7 linked regions of the Homo sapiens genome follow. The protein of the gene in region 3 purifies or fractionates together with the protein of the main gene of each other region. This does not show direct contact. Each region holds a gene or a part of one and is shown on either strand. Other genes may lie near its edges.

The links.
Region 1: the proteins of PRSS16 (region 3) and ACP3 purify together in Homo sapiens (affinity purification with mass spectrometry; one large-scale study listed by BioGRID and IntAct). This does not show direct contact.
Region 2: the proteins of PRSS16 (region 3) and GM2A purify together in Homo sapiens (affinity purification with mass spectrometry; one large-scale study listed by BioGRID and IntAct). This does not show direct contact.
Region 4: the proteins of PRSS16 (region 3) and PLBD1 purify together in Homo sapiens (affinity purification with mass spectrometry; one large-scale study listed by BioGRID and IntAct). This does not show direct contact.
Region 5: the proteins of PRSS16 (region 3) and IL37 purify together in Homo sapiens (affinity purification with mass spectrometry; one large-scale study listed by BioGRID and IntAct). This does not show direct contact.
Region 6: the proteins of PRSS16 (region 3) and FLG2 purify together in Homo sapiens (affinity purification with mass spectrometry; one large-scale study listed by BioGRID and IntAct). This does not show direct contact.
Region 7: the proteins of PRSS16 (region 3) and FLG purify together in Homo sapiens (affinity purification with mass spectrometry; one large-scale study listed by BioGRID and IntAct). This does not show direct contact.

The regions. Positions count from the first base shown.
Region 1 is NC_000003.12:132,355,407-132,359,341, reverse strand, and holds the end of ACP3 (prostatic acid phosphatase isoform PAP precursor), read right to left. Parts: intron 2,657-3,935; coding exon 2,464-2,656; 3' UTR 501-2,463; downstream 1-500. UniProt on the Homo sapiens protein: A non-specific tyrosine phosphatase that dephosphorylates a diverse number of substrates under acidic conditions (pH 4-6) including alkyl, aryl, and acyl orthophosphate monoesters and phosphorylated proteins.
Region 2 is NC_000005.10:151,256,185-151,259,684, reverse strand, and holds part of GM2A (ganglioside GM2 activator isoform 1 precursor), read right to left. Parts: intron 1-3,500.
Region 3 is NC_000006.12:27,253,911-27,257,120, reverse strand, and holds the end of PRSS16 (thymus-specific serine protease), read right to left. Parts: intron 2,429-3,210; coding exon 2,249-2,428; intron 2,136-2,248; coding exon 1,990-2,135; intron 1,875-1,989; coding exon 1,806-1,874; 3' UTR 501-1,805; downstream 1-500. UniProt on the Homo sapiens protein: Protease that may play a role in T-cell development.
Region 4 is NC_000012.12:14,503,161-14,506,022, forward strand, and holds the end of PLBD1 (phospholipase B-like 1 precursor), read right to left. Parts: intron 795-2,862; coding exon 612-794; 3' UTR 501-611; downstream 1-500. UniProt on the Homo sapiens protein: In view of the small size of the putative binding pocket, it has been proposed that it may act as an amidase or a peptidase.
Region 5 is NC_000002.12:112,916,774-112,919,382, reverse strand, and holds the end of IL37 (interleukin-37), read right to left. Parts: intron 2,255-2,609; coding exon 2,135-2,254; intron 1,749-2,134; coding exon 1,606-1,748; intron 823-1,605; coding exon 574-822; 3' UTR 501-573; downstream 1-500. UniProt on the Homo sapiens protein: Immune regulatory cytokine that acts as a suppressor of innate inflammatory and immune responses involved in curbing excessive inflammation.
Region 6 is NC_000001.11:152,350,007-152,353,506, forward strand, and holds part of FLG2 (filaggrin-2), read right to left. Parts: coding exon 604-3,500; 3' UTR 1-603. UniProt on the Homo sapiens protein: Essential for normal cell-cell adhesion in the cornified cell layers. Important for proper integrity and mechanical strength of the stratum corneum of the epidermis.
Region 7 is NC_000001.11:152,318,740-152,322,239, forward strand, and holds part of FLG (filaggrin), read right to left. Parts: intron 1-3,500.

The sequences.
Region 1 (3,935 bases), on a different chromosome or scaffold from region 3:
ATGGGGTTTCACCGTGTTAGCCAGGATGGTCTCAATCTCCTGACCTTGTGATCCGCCCACCTTGGCCTCCCAAAGTGCTGGGATTACAGGCCTGAGCCACCTCGCCTGGCCTCAAACTGATTTTACGTGGTACAGTTGCTACCTTCTGCAGAAAGCCTTTCCTGACCTTCCTTACTTCCCCTACTCCAAATCTGGATAACTCTTGTTCCCACAGTAATCTGTGTAGTCATAAGACATAGCCCTGGTTTTTCCATGTTGTACAGTATGTATCTCTTTACTTCCCTAGTATATTGTGCACTTCCTGAGGGTGTTTCCTTAGCAAATTCCATCTTAAATAGATGAGGCAGAGCCATCCACAGCTTCACCTTTATCTGAAGTGGTAAAGTCCAAACTATATTTTCAATGTAAAATGTTCATTTAAGCCAGTCAAATCATTTTACTTTATATTAATATTTTCCATCTTGTTATACTAAAACAAAAACCCCAAACACAAAGGGAGCTCCTGAAATCTGCCTAGAGGAATTTTATTCTAATTAAACACACACACATACGTTTTTCTAAGTTCATTATAAAAGCAATGCTTTTGAACTTCCTAATAATGACTTTATTCACTATTTTACATTTGGCTCACTGCTAGAAGACAGTTACAAGCATAGAAAATGGACCCAAGGACAAACATTTACTTGGGAGGGAAATAACACAAAGAAGCATATCAATCGATGTCTTTGTCAGTCATTCTGTGACCAACCAGGAGCGGGGATGGCTTTGCTCTAGATTCTGGCAGCCAGTAGAAACCATCTCTAGAAACCATCTCATCTTTATCCATAATGGTAATAGAGCACAGTGTTCTCTAGACATGTAGATCTGCCACATGGCAAAGCTATATCATGATTTCTTCTTGCAGAGTGGGCAGTTTCAGCAGGACCTGTAAGTTTGCTTAGGTTTTCTGAAGATATCGGCATTAAAGACTTACACATTCCTTTTGTCCTCCTAACGTATTTCGTAACCACACTCTCAACATTCCAATAAGTTTTGAACTTGGAGGCACTTAGAACATAATTACATTTCTAATTTTGTTTCAGTTTGATATGTGTCCCTTCCTTCCTTTTTTTGGTAGAGACAGTGTCTCACTATGTTGACCAGGCTGGTCTTGAACACACCAGGCCTAAAGTGATCCTCCTGCCTCAGCCTTCCAAAATGCAAGGATTACAGGTGTGAGCCACTGTGCCTGGCCTATACTTCCTTTCTTAATCAACTTTGTTTTTATTTATTTATTTATTTATTTATTTATTTATTTATTTATTTATTGAGACAGGGTCTCGCTCTCTTGCCCTGGCTGGAGTACAGTAGTGCACTCTTGGCTCACTGTAGCCTCGACCTCCGGGGCTCAAGTGATCCTCCTGCCTTAGCCCCACAAGTAGTGGGACTATAGGCACACACCACCATGCCCATCTAAGTTTTTGTATTTTATGTAGAGACCAGGTTTCACCATGTTGCCCAGGCTGATCTTGACCTCCTGAGCTCAAGTGATCTGCCCACCTCGGACTCCCAAAATGCTGGGATTATAGGCGTAAACCACCATGCCTGGCCTTAAATCAACTTTAGAGTCAACATCTCTTATCACTGGAGCTTCTAGAGAAACTCCATCACGTGGTGCTCTCTTTCCTGATGTGTTGTGCCCAAATAGCTTGTTCTCATCAGATGACTTATTTGCTATGATATATATACTTCAAGAGCTGCTATATGTATTACATACATCAAATCTTTCTGTAAAGTTTGATTTTTGTTTCTTTAAAAGGAACATAAATGTTCCAGGACCAAGGGACACAAAGAGGTTTTAATTTTTAGTTCTGTAGCCTCATATATTTTAACAGAAATATAAAAACAGATAGTAGCAGTTTTCCAGTGGAGAAAACTTTCCAGATGTCTCCACTGTATCTCCTTTCTTTGCCTCTCCTTGAGAGAAGGCTGGAACTGATGGGTAAATTGGTTTTTTGCCCATCAGCCTATTCACATCTTTCCTTCCTTGTTCCCATCCTAGATTGTGGGGTTTTTTTTTGAAATCTGTTCCATTTCAGACATTTAAAGAACAGCCTTATCTAATCCTGCTCAAGCAAAATCTCAGAATCCTTAAATACAAAAGATCCTGTGTGGCCAGTCATATAGTTCATGGGAACTCTATGAACTTTGACCTAAGCTTTATCTCTGATTATATTTTGGCACTGCTGCCCCTTTACATTAACGCTGAAAAACAAAACAAAACTTAGCTAAGTTTTATGGCAAGTGGGGGCAGGGTCAGGTGAAGAGGTAGGAATTGCCTGAGGTTGGGGGTCCCTAAAACATAAAATAATCATCCAAAGCCCATTTTCCTCAAAGCTGGGGGTAATGGCCAAAGTATGTTCTCAAAGCATCATCTGCCCTGAGAAAGGGCAGCTACTCCTTCTACAGAGATCTCTGTGCACACTAATCTGTACTGTCTTCAGTACCTTGATGGCTGTTTGTGGTCATACACTCCGTGGACCAGTCTTGAGGGATCACAGGGCCAACCAGCTCAGCAAACCTCTCCAGAGGACAGCTGGGGCTGCAGCCAGGTAGCATGAGGGGATACGGCTCGTGCTGCGTCTCATTCCGATAGTACATCTCCACAAAGTACTCCCTGGCAGACAAAGGCAGAGGAGAGAGCTCTGTTAGTTCTGTGTTGTTGAACTGCCACTGAATTTCTTTCCACTTGGACTATTACATGCCAGTTGAGGGACTAATGGAAAAACTTATGGGGAGATTTTAGCCAATTTAGGTGTGTAAATGGGGAGACTGGGGCAGGCGGGAGAGATTTGCAGGGTGGAAATGGGAGGGCTGGTTTGTTAGATGAACAGGGACATAGGAGGTAGGCACCAGGATGCTAAATCAGAGGAGGTGGTGAGAAGTGATGGTTGCAGGGAGCTGGGTGGGACTTTGAGCCTTTGGATAAGAAGTGGGAGGCAGGTGGGGGTGTTGGGTTTTCCTTCTCCTCCTCCCTTCTTTTTAGGCTTCTCATTTGCTCCTTTTTTTCTTTTTCTGTTTTCCTACTTGAGTATTTCTTTCAGTCCTCTTTCTGAATGTATCTCCCCTCTCCTTAACTAGGCTATAAACATGGAACTGAATAATATATAACATATGTGCTTGAATATACAGCAAGACTTTATCAGAAAATTATCCCTCAGAACAAAGATGTGGGTATGTGTTCCAGTCCTTCCATTGTGTCACGTTAAGGAGAGCTCTCTCAATGCTTTATCTCAAAAAAACAATGTACTATTTGGGAAGGTCCAATGGTGTAAACTAACCTGAGTTAAACCAGCGTGAGTTGCTTATGGAAGCCATTTGCTAATCAAGGAGTCAGGAGGGGAACTCAAGAAGGATTTAGAGATCCTTCTTTTGGTGTAACCTTACAATGGCTACTTTTGGTTGTCATTATAAACAAGCCTTTTAAAACATCACTTTAAAAAGCCATATAAACATAGTAACAGCAAATATTCACTTATGTCTATAAGGCTGGGCGCAGTGGCTCACGCCTGTAATCCCAGCACTTTGGGAGGTCGAGGCGGGTGGATCACGAGGTCAGGAGATCGAGACCATCCTGGCTAACACGGTGAAACCCCGTCTCTACTAAAAATACAAAAATTAGCTGGGTGTGGTGGCACATGCCTATAGTCCCAGCTATTTGGGAGGCTGGGGCGGGAGAATCACTTGAACCTGGGAGGTGGAGGTTGCAGTTAGCCGAGATCACGCCACTACACTCTAGCCTGGGCAACAGAGCGAGACTCCATCTCAAAAATAAAATAAAATAAAATAAAAATAAAATAAAATAAAATAAAATAAGATAAAATAAAATAAGATGTCTATAAAACTTACAAAAACCTCCCTAATATGTATTATGAATGGGTACTTATATCTTGGAA
Region 2 (3,500 bases), on a different chromosome or scaffold from region 3:
GGAAAAATGAGCTCCTGGCAGAGTGACCTTGGGTGAGGCACCCCCGTCCCTGAGCCTCATCTATGAGACTCCATACCTATGAAGCTGGGATAACACTTATCCTACTCATTTTATAGGCAGGACTAAACTAAAAGACTCAAAAGACATAATCTCCCAAAAGTGTATTGTAAACTATAAGGCAGGATATGATAGACCTGGAACTTCCAAACAGGAGACTGACCTAATTGGCCTTTGGTGGGCACCTTCTCTGACTTCCCACCTCCCTGCTGCCCACTCCTCTCCAGCCAGCCTTGGAATCCCAGCAGAGGGCAAGCTCCTGGAGGATTCACCTCTGCAGCCCACACCCAGGACCTTGTTCATGTCACACCCCGTGCCCAACCCAGAGCCAGGAACAATGGGAAACACAAAACACAATGGGAAATCTAACAGCATCTGAAATCCCACTCTCAAGGGGCAGGTGATTAACTCAGAAAGGAATAGGACACTCATGAAAAGATCCCCAGTGGATCACTTGCTGATGAATAATCCCCAGTGGACTTCCCCAGTCCTAACCAGTGTCTTCTTCCCATCCCTCTTCTCATGCCACATGCCCACTTGGATCACTCACCACCCCTGTGCTGAGCTGCTCCTGTTCCTCCTCCACATCCCCCAGGTCTCCTGATTCCACCACCACTACATCTGCATGTGACTGCATGTGACCACCACTCCGCACTCCAACAGACCCTGTCTGATGATCTTGAACACCTCCCACACTGTGAAGACTCTCTGCCCACCCACTCTCACCTCTCCCAGCCCCCTGGAGGCCACCTATGAGAGACTGTTGGCATGCCCTCCATCCACACCCTGTCTCAGAGAGAAAACCTGCCAGTCCCACACCCCCAAGCTGATGCCCACCTTCAACACTCCCATCACTGACTCTTTCAAGAGGGATCACCTAACCCCAGCTAGGCTGACAGATTCTCTCTGCCCAATTTTGGAATTAAGGTATAAAAGGCTGGGGATATGGGGGTTTTGTGCTGTCACTGGATCCTAAGTTTTGGGTTGAGGCCAGACCATCTAGATCTGTGATCCATGACCAAGCAGAAGTTAGGGCTAAGGGCTAAGGGCTCTGTTGGTCTGTGGAAAAGGGAACAGATCAAGTCCCACTTCCCTATCTATAAAAGCAGTATGGAGTAGCAGTGAAGGGCATGGCTTTGGAGAGACATGGGTGAATGACAGCTTTAGCCAAACAGCCCTGGGTGGAAATCATAGCTCTGCCACACTTACCATGTGATTTTATAGGCCAGTTTCCCCTTTGGAGTCTAAATTTCCACATCTTTTAACTGGAGGCATTTCTACCTTCCTCTCCAGGATGTTGCAAGGGCGAGAGCGTGTATGTAAAGCTCATAACCCAATGCCAGGCACAACACGGGAGCCGGCTCACTAAAGGAGCCATTAGCGTCCTAGCCTCCGCTTCCTGCCGGCAGCTCCATGGGATGTCTTGCAGCTCTGTAATAAACTTCCCCTTTACCTGAGCTTTTAGGAATGGGTTCCTACCCCTTGGAATGAAAGGTCATGTCATGACTAAGAAAGGCAGGACAGGATAGTTGCCACTAAATGTTTCCTTCAACATTCATTCCACAAATATTTATGGAGCAATGATGATAGGCCCTGGGCTAAGTGCTGTGGCAAGAGTGGTAAACAATCAGACCTGGCTCCTGCCCTGCCTTGAGGAGCTTACCGTCTAATGCAAATAAATATCACCCACTATGATTTGTGAGTGCCACAAAGGAAAAGAGCAGAAGGTAATGCTGACAGCAACAAAGGACTCACTTACATAGGGTGGTGGGGAAGTGATACTTAAGCCGGGCTCTTGCAGGATGCGGAGTCAGACATGTAAGTGCAGGCCGAGGGAACTCAGGCAAAGGCCCCGAGGCACAAAGAAGCTTGGCTGCTCCAGGCACTGGGAGAAGGCCATGGGCTAAATGTAGTAGATGAGGGACCCAGATGAGGTTGGAGGGGTAGCAGGGTCATTTAATGCAGGACCCCACAAGCTATAATCGGGAGGTTGCATTTACTATAGGGGCAGTGGAACCCCACTGAAGGACAGTACTACACTGTGATTTGTGGTTGTGAACAGACTGAAAGTGGTCAAGGGAAAGATTGCCTGGAATTAAGAGTCAGGCTGGAGGGCAACATAGGAGCAGGACTAGTTTTCTGGGTGGGGCTGTTTTCATAGATTCTAAGGCAGCCTGATCCACACAGAGAATTGATTCTGGGCTGGGGGTGGGGGTAGGGTATCCAGAGTACCTACCGGAGAAGAATCCCTTCCCCTCTCCTAAGCTCTTCTTTCCCCAGGCCCTGGGGGAGACGTAACAAGATGGCTTCCTGAGGGTAATGCCCGGCTAGCTGTCTCTGTAGTGACAAATTCTGCTGCTGAGTCCAGGCTCATCAGGGAAGGGAGGTGTAATGGATTAGCAGTGCCCACCAAGGCCAGGCTGGTCACCAGATATCTGCCATTCCAGCCTAGGCCAACTAGTGGGAAGGGGTGGTACAAGACGGAGGGGAAAGGCACAGCTCTGGAGGCAGAGATATGGGTACTACAGGTATGAGTTAAAACCCAGCTCAGCCAGTCTTACTAGCTAAGACCATGGGTAAGTTAACCCCCTAGGGGTTCAAAATTTCCTCATTTATTATGTGGACATAATGATATCTTCTCACAGGGCTATTGTGAGGGTAAGATGTTTGTATACAGAAAGCACAGGGCACAACTCCTCAAGACTGCCAAGCTCATGAATAAACAAGGAAAGACTAAGAAGCTGTCATAGGCTGGAGGAGAGGGGGGACTACAATTATATGTGTCATGACAACAATGGCAGTGCAGTACCCTGGATTGGATCCTGGCTCAGAAAGAGGGCATTAATGGGAAAACTGGTGAAATCCAAATAAAGTCTAGAATTCAGTTAACAGTAATGTACTAATGTTGGTTTCTTAGTGTTGGAGATATGTACATATAAGATGCTAACAGGGAAAACTGAGTCAGGAGTATATAGAAACTCTATATTATCTCTGTAACTTTTCTTTTTTTTTTTTTTTTCTTGAGACAGAGTCTCACTCTGTCATCCAGGCTGGAGTGCAGCAGCGTGATCTCAGCTCACTGCAACCTCTGCCTCCTAGGTTCAAGTGATTTCTCCTGCCTCAGCCTCCCAAGTAGCTGGGACTACAGGTGTACGCCACCATGCCTGGCTAATTTTTGTATTTTTAGTATGGACAGGGTTTCACCATGTTGGCCAGGTTCAGGTTGGTCTCAAACTCCTGGCCTCAAGTGATTTGCCTGCCTTGGTCTCCCACAGTGCTGGATTATAGGGGTGAACCACCACGCCCTGCTGCAACTATTCTATAAACCTAAAATTATTCCAAATTTTTTTTTAGGAAAAAAGCACATAGCCCAGTACATAGCACATAGTATGGGTACAACAAATGACAGCCACTATACAGCACTATAGAGTCTATTAAGCACC
Region 3 (3,210 bases):
GGCCTAGCCCAAGATAACTGGTATCCTCATAAAAGGGGAAATTTGGACACATGGATAGGCACATGCAGAAGGAAGGTGATGTGAAGGCACACAGGGAAAATGGCCATGTGACTGGAGTAATGCATCTACAGGCCAAGGAACACAGGAATGCTGGCAAACACCAGAAGCCAGAAGAAGCACAGAAGCATTTTCTATTTGTCTTTCTAATCTCCTTCTGTTTCTCTGAATATCTTCATTTCTATCTCTGTGTTTTTGTCTGTTTCTCTATTTATCTTTCTGTCCTTCAATCTGTGTTTTCGTTTCTGGCTCTCCGTCAGTGTCTTTGTCTCTCCTCTCTCTCTTGCTCTGCCCTGGCTATTTCCACTGCTCTATTTTTGACTCTCATTTTTGGTCAAGGAAGGATTAGAAGGCAAGGAAGGATTCTCCCCTAGAGCTGTGAGAAAGAGAATGGCTCTGCTGACACCTTGATTTCAAACTTCTAGACACAAAAACATATAATATATACTGCAAGTTTCCATTTATATAAAGATCAAGAACAGGCAGAACTAAAGTGTAGTGGAGATTGACTTTGGTATGACAGCATGAGGAGGTTGCCTCTTACCCACAAGGAAATATGAAACTGGATAAAACTCTAAAACTACCATCTCTGTGCATACAAAGACATACAAAAAGCTGAGAAGTATTTATTGCTGAAAATAATTGATCTTTAGGAAAGAACAGTGCAAATCTATGGCAGGTTCCTGTCACAGCTAACATAGCCTAAGCAGGCACCCTTGGGATTAGCCCTATCCTCCCAGGCCCTGGAAGAAGGAATCTCCACCAGAATCATGAATCCCTAGAGTTGGAAGCTGGAAGTACCAGGGAGTGATATTTGATTGTGGGAAAAGATGGTGAGTGAAGGGTGTGGAAGGAAGACTAAATAAGAGAGATAGAGAAGGAAAAGATTAAGTGACAGGAAGAGAAATAGAGACACAGAAGAAGAGCATCAGAGACAGAAATAGAGCCTCAGGGAGACAGAGAGATTGAGGACACAGCAGAGGAGAGACAGAAATAGAGCCTCAGGGAGACAGAGAGATTGAGGACACAGCAGAGGAGAGACAGAAATAGAGACAGAGACAGAGTGAGAAAGAAAGTGACTAGGAGACACACAGAGACCAAAAATGAGAGTCAGAAATAGAGCAGTGGAAATAGCCATGGCAGAGCAAGAGAGAGAGGAGAGAAAAAGACACTGACGGAGAGCCAGAAACAAAAACACAGATTGAAGGACAGAAAGATAAACAGAGAAATAGACAGAAACACAGAGATAGAAATGAAGATATTCAGAGAAACAGAAGGAGATTAGAAAGACAAATAGTGACAGGGGAAAGAGAGAGGAAGAGACTGAGGGAAAGGGGTACAGTGAGAGAAACTGAGAAGCAAGGACAGGTTCAGGATCTAAAGTCCAGAAAAAGAAACTTACAGCAAAGCCCCTAACCCAGGAGCTGGAGTGGCAGAATTTGAACCAGAATCTGATCAGCAGGGCGAGGGCACCAGCATAAGTCACATTTGTTTGACATTTAACATTCAAAATACCAATATTTACAATGAGAATAATCATCCACTTATATTTCCATAACTCTCTGCAATAAAGCACTTTAAGTTGGGAATAAGGATGTTTGCAGACACATGCCAATTACGTGCGGAACAGGTGCTGAATTCCAATTCCTGGGAGTTTCTTCTTTCAAAACAAGCTGCTTTCTTTTGTTCAGTGAACAAGTATGTCCAGGACTGAGGTGACCATGCAGGGAGTGGAAAGGGTATGAGATTCAGACTTCACCCTTAATCTGGCTCTCCTTTGCCAGCTTGAGCCAGGTCTGTAGCTGCTGGAAGATGTTCTGTGGGGAGGTGGGAAGAATTTGAAAGTCAGATTTCAGCACCAGCAGAAGGAGGGAACATGCAAGTGATTATTCAAATGAGAATGCAAATGATTCAGAGCCTTTTTTCTCTTACCTGGCGCCCTAGGCGGAGGCTGGGGGAGTCTGAGGGCCTCTCAGGTGCCATGTCCAAGCAGTGGGAGCCAGTGCGGATAAGAAGAGTTGATTCTGAGGATCCTAAAGCCTGTGTTACACTTAGCACATGCCAGGGGTCTGTGTCCCCTGGAAAGAAAGGATAGGATGGGGCTAGGTAGATGGGTGCTGGGAGAGGATGAGGCTATGTTGAGCTGGGGCTAGGTGGAGGCTTAGCAGCCAGGTTTTGATAGCATGCTCACCATTAACAAACAGCACTTTGTTAGCCCCAGGGGTCTGGCCACCGTAGTAGGAGTTCGTCTGAGCCACAGCCTGGGCTACTGACAAGGCTGAGAGCCCAAACACCTGCTCACATAGGTCTAGCTGGGAGGGCAGTGCTGGGAGCTGGGAGAAAGGACATCTGGGATTCTCACAGGTGACATCTGTGTAGGGAGATACCTGTAAGTGTGGGTATACAGGCAGCCCACCACTCTCCTTCAATAATCATTTTCAAAGCTTTCCTCAGTGATGACCAGAACATTTCTAATACTCCCTTCGAGGAGTTTACAGTCCTGGCAGACAGACTCACACAGTCCCCTGACAGTGATAGCCCACAGTGATCAGGGCTGTGATGGAAAAAGGCCACAAGGCAGGGATCCCAGAGGAAACATGATGGGCTCAGGGAAAGCATCCTGCAAAGGATAAGACCTTGAGAAATTAGTAGAACTGAGCCAAACAAAGATAGAGAAGGAAGGCATAGTAAATAGAAGAAATAGCACGTGCAAAGGTCTGGAATGCTCGGAGCTCAAATTGTATTATGTCTGCCCTGCTTAAAACCCATAGCTCACTGTGCTTTCAGGGTAAAGATAACTTCTGTAACATCAGATTAATTCATCCCTTCCCTCCCTATTTGTTGACCACCTACCAGGTGCTCAGATAAATGTTGTACAATGTTGGGCACATGGTGGCAACCAAGACAGCTCCAGGCTCTGCTGTCACAGGACTCAGTCCAGAGGGGAAGACAGGCAATAAAAAATGTATTATGACAGGCTGTGTAAAATGCTAAGGAGAACACAGAGCTATCGAAGTCGGAGGTGGCAAGGCTGACTTATCTTGAGGGATCATGGCTTCCTGAGGGAGGCCACCCTATTGAGACTTGAAGATGAATAATCCAAGCAAAGTGAACAGCATGTACAAAGTTCCTAAGATGTTAGGAAGACTAATG
Region 4 (2,862 bases), on a different chromosome or scaffold from region 3:
ATAGGAGGCAACAGTAAGCTTTACTGTATTGTATGCCTAACCTACATCACAAAAAGACTCAACTTATGCCTGTTAATGACCAGAAAAATCACTAACTACAATCACCAACTACTACTAGAGGTTCCTTTGAAAACGAAGCTCCAGCATCCCCTAGGGTTTTGTCATTAGGCATATTCATCCAGGGAAAGGGGAAAGAGCATAGGAGGAGTACAGATTCTTATGGGCGAGGCCTGGAAGTGGCACTCGTCTCAGGTTCCAATGGCTAGAATTGTCATGTGGCACAACTATCTGAGGGACACTGGGAGATGTGGTCTGTGTGAGCAGGCGTGAAAGGAGAACATGAATTCTGGTGAATGAAGGAGCTGTTTCTTCCATACCCTCTTGTGTATTAGCATGTATGCCGAAGCTTAGTGTTATTTATATATATATGTAACATTTCTTCTACAGTGCTCTACCTTATAGTGAGTGCTTACTGTAAAAACAACAAAGTCAGTGGGAAATGAAAGTGACAAATTAATATATTTTATTGCATAATTCTGATGGGAAAAACATAGCTAAAATAGTGCCTTTGGTATCTTATTTACAGTCTTCTAGTCCGTCATCTCCCTCCTTCATTTTATATCAAGTTTCAAAATTGGTTTCATGGTAATAAAATCAAAGTTGTAGACCTCTGGCATGCCCTGATGTAGAGTTTTGTTGAAACGGTCCCAGCGAAAAACAGGGAGGCCACCTTGTACTGTGGGACCACTTATGGCATAGGATGTGTACTGAGATGCTAGGTAGATATCTGCCACCTGGAAAGAGGGAGGAGGAGGACATTTTAGAAAATCATCGTTCAGCAAAAAATTAAATCCATGGCCTTCCCCACTCTCCCACTACCAAAGTCACAATATTAGCTTTTTTTTTGAGTCGGAGTTTCGCTCTTGTTGCCCAGACTGGAGTACAGTGGCACAATCTCAGCTCATTGCAACCTCTGCCTCCCAGGTTCAAGCAATTCTCCTGCCTCAGCCTCCCAAGTAGCTAGGATTACGTGGATGGGCCACCACACCCAGGTAATTTTTATATTTTTAGTAGAGATGGGGTTTTGCCTTGTTGGCCAAACTGGTCTCGAACTCCTGATCTCAGGTGATCCGCCCGCCTCAGCCTCCCAAAGTGCTGGGATTACAGGCATGAGCCACCGCGCCAGGCCGCCTTCTTTAAAACAAAATTTTCTTGCCATTTTTCACATTGTCTTTATATGATACAGTCTTCTGTATACATTTGGCTTAAATGTCAGTTGACTAGAAGTGTGTGAAATGAACAATGTAGCCAAAAGTGAGATATGAAGTCAGATTACTCATATTCAGAATTCTAGCTCCAAAGCTTATTTAAAAATCACTTAACCCCTCTATGAATCAGTGTTCTCCTTTGTAAAATGGGCTGATAACCCTACTTCATAGAGTTGGCATGAGGATTAATGCAAGCAATGCTCAAAGTAATGCCTAGAATAGATGAAGTTCTTAGAAAAAGTTGTTATTAATCAGGGTGGTAACAAGAGTCTGAAAGTAGATAGAGCTCACTGTCAAAAATTGAGGGCCGTGGTTCTCAAAAACACCTAACAACTGGCTAGCAGTGGGTCTTAATCTTAGAGGGGAAAGAGAATCTCTTCTTCTTTTCCCCATATTCAAAATGACTCTAAAGAGATAAATTACATTTTTAAAGAATATCCTTCAACAGAAACTTTCTGATAAGAACAATTGCAGGCCTCTGTCTCCAGAAGTGAGATTTGGTAGAGGGAAGCTTGGCTTGAGTTCTCCCAGGCAAGGCAGCAGAGGTGATTTTCTTTGTGTATTCTGTGATAGATACAAACTTCACACATTGACTGAATGTTTGCAAATGCCATTTTAAAAAAGGAATACAAAAACATTCATTGGGGTTTCATCTGTGCCAGCTTCTCTACGTCTACCTTTTTTTTTTTTTTTTTTAATGTTAACATTGAGAGTCATTACGGCTAAAGCTTTGCCTTCATCACATAGCTAAAAAGAAGGTTGAGCTGGAACTTAGGATACTTTAAAGCATTTCCTGTTTAGGTATTAGGCTGATAGAGAATCATGTGCAACTGGGGTCAGCATTCCTATAATTTTTTGAGCCAAAGACAGAATACACACTTTACCCTGACAGGTTTCTTCCAGAATTTAGGACAGCTGATGAAATGAAAAGACACACACCCAAGCCAAGAGTGCAAAAGGATGTAGTAGCATGATTCCACCAACCAAATGCCTCATACCCTCAGACGTCCCAAATCCAGTGGTGAGCAGGTAAATTTTTAACAACAATCTTTCTTTGTGAGGAAAAAAGTTCCTGATTTCCATAATGTAAATACTTTCACTGACTGGTTTGAAGCCATCAACACGTCAACTAACAATTGGTTCCTGCATGTCTATAAGCTGGCTTTAGCACACCACTGCAAACCTACTTATTACTTATATTTTCAGATACATTACAGCACTTATCAATTCTAACATTGTGAAAAACTGCTGTGCTTTAGGCATCTTGTCCAAACTTGCTCCTTCAGCTAAATTTGACTCATGTTTAACATGGAATCGCACTGCTTGAATAATATGTTCTTTGGACTTTGGGCCAGTCTGGTAAAACATAAGACAACAATAACATCATTATGGTTGTATACATTTACAAATAACTCACTAAGTGCTGTTGTAAACATTTTACAGAGATTAAAGCCTTATTCTTCAGAACAACATATGAGGTAAGTACTGTTATATCCATTTTACAGATGAGGAAACAGAAACATGACGGAATTATGTGATTTACTACTAAATGGCAGAGCAGGGACTTGAAGTTAGATAATAGGACCTACCACCA
Region 5 (2,609 bases), on a different chromosome or scaffold from region 3:
TCCCAGACAGTACCTGGCTCCTCCCTCACCTGGTCTCCTGGCTGTCATCTGACCCAGATTCCTTGTCTCTGTGCCTTTCCCACAGGTCAAGTCACCCTGCTCCTTATCTGGGACCTAACTACCCCTTTTCCACTATCACTTGGCTGGATTGTGACTTGCTGTTACATTTCTTTCTTGCACACTGTACCCTAGACACAGACTCAGCCACTTCTGCCCCAGGATCAATGCCCTCAGAATCTACCAAACCCCAGTAGGAAAGACTAATTCTAGAGCACAGCATGCACCCAGCTGCTCCTTCCCACTGCAAGTATTGCACTCAGACTGGCCACATCATAGCATATGACACACACATGCATGTCTGATGGTTCAGGGTAGCAGTACACAAGCAGAAGCCGGTCTCTTTCCAACCCAGAACTTTGTAATTAAACAAGCTTCTTGCTATATCCTAAAAACACAAATCCTTAAAGCATGAATGAGAAATGAAACCCAATGACAGAAAGTTTAGTGAGCAGGTTTGGTGTTTTTATACAATTAGTTCAAATTAGCGAGGAAGGCGTTCAATGGGGCAGTTTCCTAATCGCTGACCTCACTGGGGCTCATTTCAGCTTTGCAAACTGGTTGAAATGAAAATTCAATGTGTTTCCTGTTCTCAAATTTATCTGTCACCCCAACAGGCTCATTACAATTGCAGGAGGTGCAGATGAACCATCCGGGGTGAGCCGCCGACTCCAGCATGTTCCAGGAGCCCACCTGAGCCCTATAAAAGATGAAGGGCCGGCGTGCTGATTCCTTTTGGGCAGCCAGCTTCATCAGTTTCTCCTTCTGTGAGGTAAAAGGGATTAATTAGATAGCACAGGCTTTGAGAGGGAGGAAAACACAGCACATGTGCTCATCCTCCAGGCCTTTACACAGGAGAGGAGGAAAAGAGAGAAGGCAGATGGTCCTTGGGAAAGATGACGTGTCAGCCTTGGTACTGGTATTTAAGGGATGATAAGCAATCCTGCCCTCTTTTCCAGGCCTTCTTGTCCCCCAGATTAAAAATAAACTGAGAGAGAGAGAGAGAGAGAGACGTAAGAGTCAGATGGATACCAAAATCTCAGCTCTATAGTTTTTAAAATTAGAGAATATGGCTTAGATCTGTATCTAATTCAGCTTCCTAAGATTTCTCCCCTCAAGTGAAAGGTGCTCCATCCAGGACTAAATTTGCAGGGCAGACACACTGCCCTCCGAGTGCTCCCTCACACCCTCCTACCCTACAGCAGCACGCCAGGGTCCTGGCCCAATTGTGTTGCTTGCCACATGGAGGGCCACAGCAGGAGGGGACCGCCACCCGCCCAGGGCCAGGACCAGTGAGCCCAGGAGAGGAGAACAGGTGCTCAGCTCCTTGCTGTCTCCCCGCTGTGAGGAGTCTCTCCTCCTTCCCTAGAAGGGGCAAGGAACCAGAGAAGAAGTTATGGGGCTCTTCTGCCTGGTGCTTCCAGAAAGGTGGATGTCCCTGTTATATTGGCCAAGATAAGAATTTGCAGGAAAGCGAGAGGCATTGAGGATCTTGGCCTTTTACTTTGGGGTAGCCAAAGGCCCAGGAAACTGAGCTAGAACTCTCACCTTCAGCTGAAGGGATGGATGACTTTGTCCTTTATCCTTGTCACAGTAGAGACAAAACTCCCCTTTAGAGACCCCCAGGAGAATCGGACTTCCTTTCTCCGCAGAGGCTGAGCTCAAGGATGAGGCTAATGCAAAGAAGATCTCTGGAAAAAGACAGTCAGAACATGTGTGGGTTCTGAGAGCAGGGAAAGGTCTCTCCTGTCTGCTGGGGTTTCAGGCCTGATGCACAGTCCCTCTCCCTTGACTCTGTGGTCCACTTCTCCCTCCATCACACTGGTTTAAGCCTCCTCTTCTTCCAGTCTAAGTGTCTGCCTCCTTCTTTTTCTCCAGCCCTTCCAGAAAGACTACTTTCAGATCTGGTCATTGCTAGAGACCCTTCATCTGATGCCCTAGTCCCTGGGGCCTCTCCTCCTCGCTTCCACCACCTGCTGGAGATGGGGCATGGTATAGCATGGAGTTGAGCCCACCTAGCAGGAGGCCTTACCCCTGCTAGGTGGAGGCAGAAAACACAGCCAAAACTGAGAGTCACCTGGGCGTATGTAGTTTTTATCTGGAACTGCTATGAGATTCCCAGAGTCCAGGACCAGTACTTTGTGATCCTGGTCATGAATGCTGAATTTCTTCGGGTTTAAGTTCTTCACCTTTGGACCTAGATCAATATCACCAGATATCAACACTTCACATTGAAAATGGAAGACTCAGCCCTTTCTTCCCCACGTCCAAGGGCCCCAGCCCTAGCTCTCCACCCTGCCTGTGGGCTCAGACATCACAGCCACTGAATATTTCTTCCACTCCCAGGCTTTCTATCTTGCTGGGACAAGCAATTAAGCTTTCTGTGCAAGCAAATGGGTTCCAGATTTGGACAGATAGATTCAAATCCCAGCTCTGCTGTAGGACAGAGGACAAGTTACTAAGTCTCTCCAAACCTCAATGTCCTCATCTGTGAAATGAAAGTAATAGCAGCACCTACTTGAGAGAGGAGTTATGAGAACTAAAATGCTTAC
Region 6 (3,500 bases), on a different chromosome or scaffold from region 3:
TGATTGGCCATGGCTGTATACTTGTCTTTCATTGGTACTGAATCCAGACTGACCCTAGGCATCTCTTGATGGCCCATGACTTAATACCTATCTGGCAAAACCTGTGCTGGATCTTACCTGCCCATGAAAAGTTGTATCTCCGAAATGTTGCTGGCTAGATCCATGTATACCTATTGTATTGAACTCTAACTTCCCATGCCTAGATCCTAATTGCTCATGAGTGTCTTTCTCCCAATCTTCTGAATGCTTTTTGTTATCAGTATGGGATTCCTGTTTTCTGATTGAACTAGATTTTGAATGGCCATGAACTGATATGGATTGTCCATGGCCAAATCCAAGGTGGTCATTTGACTGGCTATGTGTACATCCCTCCCTTCTGGCTGTGTTATATCCAGGTTGAACATAGGTGTTGTTTGACTGTTTATGAGTTACTATAGAATGTCCATGACTAGATTCCTGACTTCTTATAATAATAGGTCGAGACTGATACTGAGAATCAACTGAATGTTCATAACTTACCATTGACTGTTCATGATTTAAACTGTGTCTTCCTGTTCTTTTAGTTGCTTTGGATACTATAAGGTCAGAACTAGAAAATAACTGTCAATGTCTAGACAGTTGCTTGTTTGCAGTGCTGTCTGTTGACCATGAAAGGTGAGAATTACTGATGCTTTTTCTGCTGCCACCAGAAGGCCCATACCCAGTGTGCCCATAGTCATATTCTGCAGGTCCATAGCTGCCATGTTTCCAAACCTGACTTGATCCATGCCTTTGCCTTTCACTACTATGTGACTGAAAATGACTTGCTCTACTAGATCTGGAACCTGTCTGTGTGGATTGTCCATAACCAGAATGGCCATGTCTAGTGGTATCTCCTGTCTGTCCATGAGTAGTTTCCAGTCTCCCATGAACTGTGGATCCTGGCTGTCTTTGTTGAGATCCAGCTTGGCCCTGAATGTGTCCTGAATGTGTGTGTGAGCCCCATGAGTGCACTTCACTGTCACTGGACTCACTGTGGCCAGATCCCCTTCTTCCAGTTGTCCTGGACCCTCTCTGTGTGGATTGTCCATAACCATAGTGGGCATGTCTAGTGGTATCTCCTGTCTGTCCATGAGTAGTTCCCTGTCTCCCATGACCTGAGGATCCTGACTGTCCATGTCGAGATCCGGCTTGGCTGTGAGTGTGTCCTGAATGTGTGGGTGAGGCCTCTGAGTGCACTTCACTATCACTGGACTCACTGTGACTAGATCTTTGTCTTCCAGTTGTCCTGGAACCTGTCTGTGTGGACTGTCCATGACCAGACTGGCCATGTCTAGTGGTATCTCCTGTCTGTCCATGTATAGTTCCCTGTCTCCCGTGAATGGCAGATCCTGACTCTCCATGTTGAGATCTGGCTTGGCCATAAGTGTGTCCTGAATGTGTGTGTGAGACCCCTGAGTGCACTTCACTGTCACTGGACTCACTGTGGCCAGATCCCCTTCTTCCAGCTGTCCTTGACCCTCTCTGTGTGGACTGTCCATGACCAGAGTGAGCATGTCTAGTGGTATCTCCTGTCTGTCCATGAGTAGTTCCGTGTCTCTCATGAACTGAGGATCCTGACTCTCCATGTTGAGATCCGGCTTGGCCATGAGCGTGTCCTGAATGTGTGTGTGAGACCCCTGAGTGCCCTTCACTGTCACTGTACTCACTGTGGCCAGATGCCCTTCTTCCAGTTGTCCTGGACCCTCTCTGTGTGGACTGTCCATGACCAGAGTGGCCATGTCTAGTGGTATCTGCTGTTTGTCCATGAGTAGTTCCGTGTCTCTCATGAACTGAGGATCCTGACTCTGGATAGTGAGATCCAGCTTGACCGTGAGTGTGTCCTGAATGTGTGTGTGAGACCCCTGAGGGCCCTTCACTGTCACTGTACTCACTGTGGCCAGATCCCCTTCTTCCAGTTGTCCTGGACCCTGTCTGTATGGTTTGTCCATGACTAGGGTGGCCATGTTCAGTGGTATCTCCTGTCTGTCCATGAGTAGTTTGGTGTCTCTTGTGAACTGTGGATTCTGACTCTCCATGTTGAGACCTGGCTTGGCTGTGTGTGTGTCCTGAATGTGTATGTGAGCCCCCTGAGTGCACTTCACTGTCACTGGACTCACTGTGGCCAGATCTCCTTCTTCCAGTTGTACTGGATCCTGACTGTGTGGACTGTCCATGACCAGATTGAGAATGTCCACTGGTATCTCCTGTCTGTCCATGAGTAGTTCCATGTCTCTCGTCAACTATGGATTCTGACTCTCCATGTTGAGATCCAGCCTGGCCGTGAGTGTGTCCTCGTGAGTGTGGTCTTTGTGAGAACCCTGAGTGCCCTTCACTGTCACTGTACTCACTGTGGCCAGATGACCTTCTTCCAGTGGTCCTGGACCCTGTCTGTGTGGACTGTCCATGACCAGAGTGGGCATGTCTGGTGGTATCGCCTGTCTGTCCATGTATAGTTCCATGTCTCTCATGAACTATGGATTCTGACTCTCCATGTTGAGATCTGGCTTGGCCATGAGTGTGTCCTGAATGTGTATGTGAGACTCCTGAGTACCCTTCACTGTCACTGTACTCACTGTGGCCAGATCCCCTTCTTCCAGTAGTCCTGGACCCTGTCTGTGTGGTTAATCCATGATGATAGTGGGCATGTCTAGTGGTATCTCCTGTCTGTCCATGAGTAGTTCCATGTCTCTCAGGAACTATGGATTCTGACTGTCCATGTTGAGATCCAGCTTGACCATGAGTGTGTCCTGTATGTGTGTGTGAGACCCCTGAGTGCACTTCACTGTCACTGGACTCACTGTGGCTAGATCTCTGTCTTCCAGTTGTCCTGGACCCTCTCTGTGTGGACTGTCCATGACCAGAGTGGGAATGTCCAGTGGTATCTCCTATCTGTCCATGAGTAGTTCCGTGTCTCTCATGAACTGTGAATTCTGGCTCTTCATGTTGAGATCCGGCTTGGCCGTAAGTGTGTTCTCGTGAGTGTGGTCTGTGTGAGCCCCCTGAGTGCACTTCACTGTCAGTGGACTCACTGTGGCTAGTTCTCTGTCTTCCAGTTGTCCTGGACCCTGTCTGTGTGGTTTGTTCATGACCAGAGTAGGAATGTCTAGTGGTATCTCCTGTCTGTCCATGAGTAATTCTGTGTCTGTCATGAATTATGGATTCTGACTCTCCATGTTGAGATCCACTTTGGCCGTGAGTGTGTCCTGAATGTGTGTGCGAGCCCCCTGAGTGCACTTCACTGTCACTGGACTCACTGTGGCCAGATCCCCTTCTTCCAGTTGTACTGGACCCTCTCTGTGTGGATTTTCCATGATGATAGTGGGCATGTCTAGTGGTATCTCCTGTCTGTCCATGAGTAGTTCCGTGTCTCCCATGAACTGTGGATCCTGACTCTCCATGTTGAGATCCGGCTTGGCCATGAGTTTGTTCTTGTGATTGTGGTCTGTGTGAGCCCCCTGAGTGCACTTCACTGTCACTGG
Region 7 (3,500 bases), on a different chromosome or scaffold from region 3:
GGTTAGGCACTGTTTCATGCTTTGGAGATATAGTAGTGAACAAGATAGATGAGGTGCCTGCCTACTTTTGTGAAGACAATAAACAAACAATAAATTAATTCAACAATTAGATATTGATAAGTGATATGTACATAACTAAAATAAGAGTGCTATTATACAGAATATTTGGGGGTACTTTAAGGAAAGGAGGTTTTGTGGTAGAGGGGACATTTGAACTTAAAATGGAAAAATAAGAAGGAAGTAGCCTTGTTAATTAGAGAATTTTAGCACAAGGAACAGTGCAAAGATTCCAAGATGAAAATCAGCTTGTCATGTTAGAGATATAGAAAAAGACCAACTCAGTTAGAAAATTGTGGACAAAGCAGGAGTAATACAACATAAAGTCAGAGATACAGACGGGTCAGATAATGATCTTCTAAATAAGGTGACATTTGTGCATTTTATTTTAGGTGTGATGAGACTAGATGATATTTTTTGGTAAGAGAGTGATCTAATATGGTTTGATTTTTAAAGATTGCTTTGTGCAATTGTTTATTAGTTTCAGACTAACTCTGAATACAACTAGAAAATGTGTGTGTGTGTGTGTGTGTGTGTGTGTGTGTTTGAAGGTATCACAGAGCTATCAAGATTGTGACAATTTATTGGGGCTTACATTCAGATTTAGAGGGAAATATAGTATTTGGGGAATTAAAAGACAAAATTTTCTAAAACTGATGAAAGATATCAAGGTACAGGTTCAAAACGATATTATAAACTCCAAGCAGGAGATATAAAAGAAAACCAAAGCAAGACATATAATAATAAAACTGCTGAACATTTGAGGCAATGAGGAAATCCTAAGAGCAGACAGAGAAACACTTGTATTACCTTCAAAGGAGCGACAATAAGATTGATACTTGTCTTTTCAAAAGAAACAATGGAAGCTAAAAGACGATGAAATGTTATATTCATCTTTCTGAAGCAAAATAAGTTATATGTTAACAGTGAAAATATCCACCAAAAAGAAAACATGTAAAGATATTTTCAAGCAAAGAAAAACAGAGCTAATCACCAGAGACCTACTGTAAAGGAAATATTAAAGGATAATTCTAGTTGGAAGCACAGAGGAGCAAGAAAGAATAAGAACAATGGAAAGAGCATATGTGTGGAAAAATATAGCTAGATATTGATTGCATAAAATAATAATAGTAATCTTTCAGGATTTAAGATAAATAGAATTAAAATACATAACAATCCCAGATAAGGCAGTGAGAAAATGGAGTTAAGTATTGTAGGATACTTGTATTATTTGGGTAGGGGTTAAAGTATTTTTTTCTTAATAATATACCCTAACAAATCAAGGATGCATGCTATAATTTTTAGGGCAAGGATGCAGATAATAATAAAAGAGTGTATAATTAATAAGCTTTTGTATAAAGATAATTAACTGGTAAATATTAACTTAATCCAAAAAAGTCAAGAATAGAAAAAGAAATACAGAACAGGTGAGATAGTAGAAACCAAGTAGTAATATTGTAGAGATGTAAACCAAATAGTTCCATAATAACTCTGAATATAAATAGAGTAAATATGCTAATTAAGGGACAAGGCTGTCAGACTGGATTAAAAAAAACCAACTGTATTCTGCTTATAAGAGACACACATAAAATGTGATTAAAATGATTGTAAATGAAAGGGTGGAAGAAAGAGATACCATTCAAACACTAAAAGAAAGCTGTTATTATTATATTCATATCTGTCAAGCAGACTTTAAGGCAAAAAATATTGCTAGAAGGAAATTTTATAATAATAAAAGATCAATTCTCCAGGAAGCCTCAAAATACATAAATAAAAATCGACAGAAGTATAAGGAGGACCAGGCAATCTACAATCATAGTGGGGTATTTAAATACACTTCTCTCAGCAACTGATAGAAGAAGTAAAAAATATGTAAGAATGTAGAATATTTCTACAAAATTATTAATAAAACATCAACATACATTGAACACTACACCTAACAACTGCAGAATATCCATTCTTTTGAAATTGACCATATACTGGGCCATAAAGCAAGTTTCAATAAATTTTAAAGGGTTGAAATCATAGAGTTTGTTCTCTAACACAGTGGAATGAAGCAAGCATTAAATAATAGGAAGATAACTAGAAAAATCTTTAAGTGTTTGAAAATTAATGACTTCTAAATAATCAATGGGTCATTGAATAAATTACAATGCAAAATTAGAAAATATTTTGAACTAAATGAAAATGAGAAAAATATGAAATAGCATAACTTGTGGAATACATTAATTCCATGCCTAATAGATATTTATAGCCTATATATATATACACACACACATATATACATATATACACTCACATATATATGTATATAAACACATACATATATATATGAATGATATCTCTTTTTCCCATCCTTTCATTTTCAATCACTGTTATCATTTTTTATGTGTGAATCTTATAAGCAGCATACAGTTGTGTGTGTATATATATGTATATGAAAGACTGAAAAATTAATTACCTAAGCATATATTTCAAGAAGTTTTAAAAAGAACAAATTAAGCCCTAAGAAAGTATAATGAAGGAAATAATAAAGATAACTAAAATTAATAAAAGAGAAAGAAAATTTAGAGAACCAACAGTGCCAAGATTCAGCCTTTGAAAAATCTAATAAAACTGATAACCCCTGCAAGATTAATCAAGGAAAGAAGAGTAAGTACCAATATCAGGAAAGTAAAAGGGGACATTGCTATCGAGGTTTTAGACATTAGAAAGATGACAAGAGCATATTATAAAAAACATTATACCAGCTAATTTGAAAATTTAGATGACATAGAAGAAATGTCTAGAAAAACACTTGTTACCAAAACTGAACCAACAATAAATAGAAAACCTAAATAGTACTATGTTTATTAAAGAAATTGAATCTTAAATGCATTCATTTCCAGTGGGGGAGAAACTGCAGGTCAGATGGCTTTACTGAATTCTATTCAAAGTGAAAGAAAGAAATAACTATAACATCACATAGATTATTTCAGAGAAATGAAAAACAGGAAACACCCATTTTATTAATCCAAACTGGCCTCAGTACCATAACCTGACAACGATATAAGAATCAAAATTTTCAGGACAATTCCTTTCATATAGATGCAAAACTCTGAAAGAATATAATAGCAGACTGAATTCAGTAGTATATAAAAAGAATATATGTTATTCCTAACTACATTTTATTCCAAAATTCATTTTTGGATTAACATTTGAAAACCAACCAATTAAGTACTGAAATAGAATAATGGGGAAAATTATATGAACCTCTCAATAGATGAAAAATTGATAAAATCCAATATTAATTCTGATTAATAAATAAAAGATTATGTCTTTGAAAAATGTCATAGCAAAAATTATATTTAATGGTGAAATGAAAGCTTTCATCTCCAAGTTTGGGAATGAAACTAGTATGCCTGCATCATCCTATTGATATATACTATGTATAGTATCATCCT